Linked DNA regions of Homo sapiens. The protein of the gene in region 1 purifies or fractionates together with the protein of each later gene. This does not show direct contact. Each region holds a gene or a part of one and is shown on either strand. Other genes may lie near its edges.

Region 1 (4,207 bases):
AGTCCCAGCTACTTGGGAGGCTGAGGCAGGAGAATGGCGTGAACCCGGGAGGCGGAGCTTGCAGTGAGCCGAGATAGCGCCACTGCACTCCAGCCTGGCAACAGAGCGAGACTGTCTCAAAATAAATAAATAAATAAATAAATAAATAAATAAATAAATAAGATAAAGTTTCTGCCTTCATGGAATTTATAGCCTAGTAGGTAAGACAATAAAATATATAAACATAAAACAGATTGCCATGAAAAAAATGCATACACAACTATAGCCAACATATGTGCATATATGAACACTGAAGTGAATAGCCATATATATATATATATTTTTTTTTTGAGACGAAGTTTCACTCTTGTTTGTTGCCCAGTCTGGAGTACAGGGGTGCAATCTCGGCTCACTGCAACCTCCACCTCCTGGGTTCAAGCAATTCCCCTGCCTCAGCCTCCCGAGTAGCTGGGATTACAGGGGTACAGGTGCCTGCCACCACACCTGGCTAATCTTTTGTATTTTTAGTAGAGACGGGGTTTCACCATATTGGTCAGCCTGGTCTCGAACCTCAGGTGATCTGCCCACCTCATCCTCCCAAAGTGCTGGGATTACAGGCGTGAGGAGCCAGAGAGCCACAGCACCTGGCCAAGCTTTTATGCCCTTTTTTTTTTTTTTGAGACGGAGTCTCGCTCTTGGTGCCCAGGCTGGAATACAGTGGTGAAATCTCAGCTCACTGCAACCTCTGTCTCCCGGTTCAAGCAATTCTCCTGCCTTAGCCTCTCAAGTAGCTGGGATTATAGGCACTGCCACCATGCCTGGCTAATTTTTGTATATTTATTTATTTATTTATTGAGACAGAGTCATGCTCTGTCGCTTAGGCTGGAGTGCAGTGGCATGATCTCGACTCACTGCAAGCTCCACCCCACAGGTTCACGCCATTCTTCTGCCTCAGCCTCCCGAATAGCTGGGACTACAGGCATCCACCACCACGCCTGGCTAATTTTTTGTATTTTTAGTAGAGACGGGGTTTCACCATGTTGGCCAGGCTGGTCTCAAACTCCTGATCTCAGGTGATCTGTCCACCTAGGCCTCCCAAAGTGCTGAGATTACAGGCATGAGCCACTGTGCCCAGCCTCAAGCTTATGTTCTTAAGCAGGACCTCAGCATATGTACTATGTCTGCACATGCACCAGCATACGTGTTTGATATCCCCCAATGTGTGCACCCATAATCACCCATGAACACTCCTGGGGGCATTTGCCTCTTGTCTTCGGGTCAGTGTGATTTGTGGGTAGCAGGCACGTGAATGGGGTCACTTGCATCTACATGTGATATAGTGGGAAACATGGGTGCAAGGGATGGGCTGCCTGAGTTCAAATCCCAGCTCTGCTACTTTGCAGCTGGGAGACCTTGAGCAAAGACCTTTCACAGTCTGCACCTTAGTTTCCTCATTTCTAAAATAGGGCAGGCCAGGCACGGTGGCTCATGCCTGTAATCCCAGCACTTTGGGAGGCCCAGGCAGGCAGATCACCTGAGACCAGGAGTTCGAGACCGGTCTGGCCAACATGGTGAAACCTTGTCTATTAAAAATACAAAAACTTAGCCGGGTGTGGTGGTGCATGCCTTAATCCCAGAAACTCGGGAGGTCAAGGCATGAAAATCACTTGAACGTGGGAAGTGGAGGCTGCAGTGAGCCAAGATGCACCACTGCACTCAGCCTGGGTGACAGAGCAAGACTCTGACTCAAAATAAATAAATAATAAAATAATAATAAAATGGGGTGAATGATTGTGCCTGCCTCACGGGTGTGATGTGAGGATTAAATGACTTCCTGGATTCAGGGCACTTAGAATGCAGCTTGGTGCATTGTAAAAGCTCCATAAACATTAGCCTCCAGCAGTTTCATACACCCATCTGCCCGCCCATAGGGACACACGTTATTCCCTGCACACTGGCATTCAGGCTGTCATGCTCAAAGCTGTGTGCGTCTCTAAAACAGAGGGCAGAGGGCTGGGAGAAGCAGCCCTGCCAACTGGGGCAATGCCCTCACCCCCAGTCGCCTCTTTGTAAGTAACAACCCTTTGCCCACTTTGACTCCAGCATGCTCCCTCTGGGTCAGGGGTTCTCCTGGTTGGTTAGGATGCAGGTCCCAGGGATTTATTCTAGAGGTGCAGAAGGGCAAGTTCTTAGAACTAGAAGGCCATCCCTTCAACCCCCAAGGTCAGGAGCACTTAAGAAGCTTATCTCAGTAAAAGCAATAATCTGGGGAGACGTGGAAGAGTGAGCATCAGGGTAGTGATTATTCCAATCTAGGAAATGCCCTAGTGAAACCCTTCTAAAAATAACCCCCACCCACCCCCTGCCACTCTCAGCATGCTTTATTTTGTGTCTCAGCACTTATTCCCACCAGATAGAGCAACAATTTCTTTTTATCTGTTTATCACCCATTCTCCCTCTCCTCCCCACATGACACCCGTCCTGAGGGCTGAGATTTTTGTCTATTTCATCTCCAGTTGTGTTGCCAGCATTCAGAGCACCCAGAAGATGCTCAAGAAATATTTCTAGGATGAGGGGATGATTCCTGGAGGGAATCCTGGGTCTCCCCAAGCCCACAAGTGCAGCTGGGAGGGATGGGTAGGGGAGACAGTGCTGGGGAAGCCGTTTCCACCCGGCTGCCTCCTAGTGCCACCCTGCACTTCTTACCCTGGTAGCGCTTCTTGGGGTCATGGGCCAGTTGCACTGCAAGTTCCAGACCAATTCCTGATGAGCAGCCGGAGATCAACACAGTCCGGGGTGCAGCGGCCATGTTGATCCCCTCCCTGGACTCGTGACCTCCGCCGGGCAGCACCTGACTCTGACCATTCATCCTGGGCTCATCTGCTCCCTCCTAACCCCCTCCCACAGATCCCCTGCAGGGCAAAGCCTCTGCCCTCCCCCGGAGACCCTCAATTCTGGACTGACCCTGAACAGGCAGTAAGAGAGAATCTCTTAAATCCTCTCTGCACCTCATTTTCTTCATCTGCCAAACATTTCTTCTCCGCACCTACTATAGACATCACTGGTTTTTGTTTGTTTGTTTTTAAGAGACAGCATCTTGCTCTGTCACTCAGGCTGGAGTGCAGTGGCACCATCATAGCTCACCACAGCCTCAAGCGATCCTCCTATCTCAGCCTCCAGAGTAGCTGGGGCTACCGGCGCACACTACCATGCCCAGCTAATTTTTAAATTTCTTTTTCTTTTAGACATGGGATCTTGCTATGTTGCCCAGATTGGTCTCGAACTCTTGGCCTCAAGTGATCCTCCTGCCTTGGCCATTTGTAACTGTTTTCTTAATTTATAATTTTTATTATGACTGTAAATTATTATTATTATTTTGAGACAGAGTCTTGCTCTTGTCACCCAGGCTGGAGTGCAGTGGTGCAATTTCGGCTCACTACAACCTCAGCTTTCCAGGGTAAAATGATTCTCCTGCCTCAGCCTCCTGAGTAGCTGGGATTACAGGCGTGTGCCACCACACCCAGCTAATTTTTGTATTTTTAGTAGAGATGAGGTTTCGCCATGTTGGCCAGGCTGGTCTTGAACTCCTGACCTCAAGTGGTCCAGCCGCCTCAGCCTCCCAAAGTGTTGGGATTACAAGCATGAGCCACTGAGCCTGGCCGAGTATAAATTATTTAGGGCTGGGGAGAGTTTCTGTGAAAGTTGGGGGGAATTAGTGTCTGTATTCTGGGTGAAGAATCTCTGATTGAAGGGAGAGAGTGAGAGAAGGAGACAGAGAATGTGGATCCAGAAGTGTTTCATAGAGGGAAGGGGTGTAGAACTGTCAGAAGATGTAGTTAGACTATAGGAAGAACTTCCAGCAAGGCAGGGCAGGGCAGGAATTTTGTGAGAGTCTTTTAGTTGGAGAAGTCTCAGCCTCAGATGTCCCTGGGGTGGGAGGAGGCACAGCTTACAGAGATACCCTCTCCTCCTCCCACCCTGGGGGGCCCCCATCTCCCCCTCAGGCTTGATGGGGCCCCAACCCCTCCTCTTCAGGGACACAGAGACTCTTTGTCTGGGGAGTCAGAGGCTGGGAGGGAGGCACTGCTTGCGTCTCCCTCTTCCCCTGGGGCGGAGGTGGGGGAAGCAGGGTTCGGGGAGCAGTTCAGGGCTCAGAATACGCCTCTTGGTTCCTCCCCTCCCTGGGGAAACACCCTCACATCCTGCGTGTCTGCGCTTGTCCAATTGC
Region 2 (3,506 bases), on another chromosome or scaffold:
ATTATCATATTCCACAGATTAATCTATTCTTTCAGTCTATCATCTTTGACCAAACTAACAAATAAACAAACAAAATTTAAATCTATTCAACAAATATGAGGAAAACTATGATATAACATTGCATTGTGATAAATGCATATTTTAAGTCAGTTTAAATTAGTATTTGATATTAGGAATATTGAATAATATGAGGATGTTATTTATTCCTAATTTAATGTATAGATTTGATATAATTTGACTCAAAAGAAAAGGGGGAGAAAAAAATGGGAGATTTTATTTCAAAACCTGGCAACATTTTTCTGATGCTTATCCTAGAAAAAGTATTATAAATTCACACCCTCAGGAAATCTGAATGGTATGCCATTAGTTTAAATTCAAGCAATTAAAAAAACTGTCTAATAGACAACACCCAAGAATTGAGTCTGTTACTGACAAAATCCCTTCATATTGTTTTTAATTTTTTAGTATGTGTGTACAAAACTTTCAGAAGCTGTGATCACACCCAACAATTCTATCATCAGAACAACACTTCTACTAGAGATTTCACAAAAGATTTTGTGAGATGTCTTGCTGACATCAAGGTAGCCTATTTTCCTGTTGGGCAGTTTCCTGGTTTCTTGTCCTAACAACCTTTGAATTCAAAGAAACAAGCAAATAATAACAAAATCTAAGAGAAGTTATATAGAATTTACTGATTTTCAATTTTTAGGAGATCTTTGAAATAATTTAGTCTGTGCTTCTCATTTTCAAAGATTATGAAACTTTCAAACTTAAATGCAAGTTTAAGCAATACAAATAGCTAACATTTACTGAGCTTCTACTTTAAAGTGAGAACTGCAGTGAATTTACATATAGTAGCTTAATGGTATCTTACTTTATTCAAAACGATTAAGTTAAGGACTGTTATCTCCATTATACTTAGATGAGATACACTTTTCAAGGTTATCGTTTAGAATTTGGTAACATTTTATTATATGGAGAACTTTATTACATTAACCTTTGTATGATGAAATTTGATAGAAATTTAACATTTTAAAGATTTTTTTATTTCATTACTTTTAGTTGTTAATATTATATGTGTATTTCATTATCTGTGTAGTTATATGCACATATATGTTTCTGATTTAATTTTCACAAATTGAAATTTATATTTATTTACAAAGAATGAGCATGAGTATTCCAAAATATAGGCCTTGTCCTTGAGGAACATTATTATATTATTAATGTATTTATTCTTTTGAACTAATCATTTGACTTGCTTTGCATTTTGCAAGTGTGTCAGAATTTTACGTATTGTAATTTTAAAATGATCTTCGATTATCTTGAATATTTCAGATATTATTAGTTATTGAAGTACCAAAGAAAGTATAAAAATGACTTTATATTTTTAAGGAAACTAATAGAGAAATATAAGAATTTCTCTTCTATGATTGGCAGCTAACAATCAAAGGATAAGAGGGGAACATCATATAATTATTATTTATAAGCTGCTTTAGGAAATTGTTATAGGAACTATTTCCTGATGCTTTTGAAGGCATCAGTTTTGAAATGCCAGATGATTTAAGAAGCAAGAGGATTATTTTGATGCTCCCTGAACAAAATAGTAGGTGTATTGGATGATATCTTTTTGTTTTTTTTTTTGTTTTTTTGAGATGGAGTTTTGCTCTTGTTGCCCAGGCAGGAGTGCAGTGGCATGATTTCAGTTCACTGCAACATCCACCTTCCAGGTTCAAGCAATTCTCCTGCCTCAGCCTCCCGAGTAGCTGGGATTAGACGTATCCCACCGTGCCTAGCTTATTTTTGTGTTTTTAGTAGAGACGGGGTTTCGCCATGTTGGCCAGGCTGGTCTCGAACTCCTGACCTCAGGTGATCCATCTGCCTCAGCCTCCCAAAGTGCTGGGGTTACAGGCATGAGCCATCATGTCTGGCTGGATGATATCTTTCAACTGAGTTGTGTTACTACTATGCACATCCGTTTAGCAATTTTTTGTTTCTACAGGTTTTGTTTTCTTTATTTGAATATATGAAAACATTTGATTAATAATACAAGATTTTTACTTTCAAAGCTTTTTTCTAACCTAGTTTCTTTCATTACAGAAACACCTGCTGCATTTCCAGACACCATAAAAGAAAAAGAAACACCAACTCCTGGTGAAGATATTCAGGTAGAAAGTTCAATTCCCCATACAGATTCAGGAATTGGAGAGGAGCAAGTGGCTAGCATCCTGAATGGGGCAGAATTAGAAACAAGTACAGGCCCTGATGCCATGAGTGAACTCTTATCCACTTTGTCATCCGAAGTGAAGAAATCACAAGAGAGCTTAACTGAAAATCCTAGTGAAACGTTGAAGCCTGCAACATCCATATCTAGCATTAGTCAAACCAAAGGCATCAATGTGAAGGAAATACTGAAAAGTCTTGTGGCTGCTCCAGTTGAAATAGCAGAATGTGGCCCTGAACCTATCCCATACCCAGATCCAGCATTGAAGAGAGAAACACAAGCTATTCTTCCTATGCAGTTTCATTCCTTTGACAGGTAGGTACTGAACTTATTATTCACAGGGCTTTATACATAAAAGGAAAATTAGACTTTGTTAATTTTAAAATATAAGGAAGATCTTGAAAACTTTATTAACGTAGATTCTTATTACAAAGACAATCAAAATGATGGCTCAACCTAATCTTATAATAAGACATCTTAATAATACATCTTAAAGAAGAGGTTTCAATGTGATATGATGGATAGCACATTGAATTGGAAGTAGGGAAACATGGATTATGGTTATATTCCATTATCAAAGGACTACAGTACATCGGGGTGTTATTTTTCTCTTTGGACTTAGTCGTTTCATGTACATAATGGGGAAGGGGATGGGTCACATCTGTCCAAGGTTTATCCTGGCTCTGAAATTCCATTATAATATTATAAAATACTATAATAATTGTTGGAGATTATATGACATGCTTTAAGTGATAATATTTAAATTTGAACCTTAAATGGAAGTATATGGAAAAATTTTAAAATTGTTTGTGGTCATCTTCTTTATGAGATTTCCAATACCAATGTAAAAGCTGTATTTTGAAGCATGTATTTAAAAGTAAATATTTTTGAAAGGTATTTTGGCATTTTAGGTATCGAAACTATTTATAACATGGCCCATATGTCATATATCTACATTCAAATGTTAAATCATGCAAGGAATTTTTTTAAGGAACAATTAACTTTTTATTCCAGTATACATTCAATAAAAATGATAGTTCACAGAAGCAGAATAAGATATTTTAGAACCTAATACCCTAGTCATCTAATATCTTCCACTATTTAAAAACATGTGCAAGATTAGAAGAATATTTTAGTCACTAATTACTAACAGTAGTACTTAACATTGATCACTGGGGTTAATGCCTATTCCAAATAATGTTTGCGTGTTAATGTATTAACTGAAAAATGTGATGGCTTACCTTTTAAAGTAAATCATTGTTATTGATGTTTTAAAACATCTTTT

Evidence for each region. The genes of interacting proteins can lie anywhere in the genome.
Region 2: the proteins of RDH8 (region 1) and NBEA purify together in Homo sapiens (affinity purification with mass spectrometry; one large-scale study listed by BioGRID and IntAct). This does not show direct contact.

What each region holds. Positions count from the first base shown.
Region 1 is NC_000019.10:10,012,079-10,016,285, reverse strand, and holds the start of RDH8 (retinol dehydrogenase 8), read right to left. Parts: upstream 2,804-4,207; 5' UTR 2,789-2,803; coding exon 2,686-2,788; intron 1-2,685. UniProt on the Homo sapiens protein: Retinol dehydrogenase with a clear preference for NADP. Converts all-trans-retinal to all-trans-retinol. May play a role in the regeneration of visual pigment at high light intensity.
Region 2 is NC_000013.11:35,193,767-35,197,272, forward strand, and holds part of NBEA (neurobeachin), read left to right. Parts: intron 1-2,097; coding exon 2,098-2,536; intron 2,537-3,506. UniProt on the Homo sapiens protein: Binds to type II regulatory subunits of protein kinase A and anchors/targets them to the membrane. May anchor the kinase to cytoskeletal and/or organelle-associated proteins.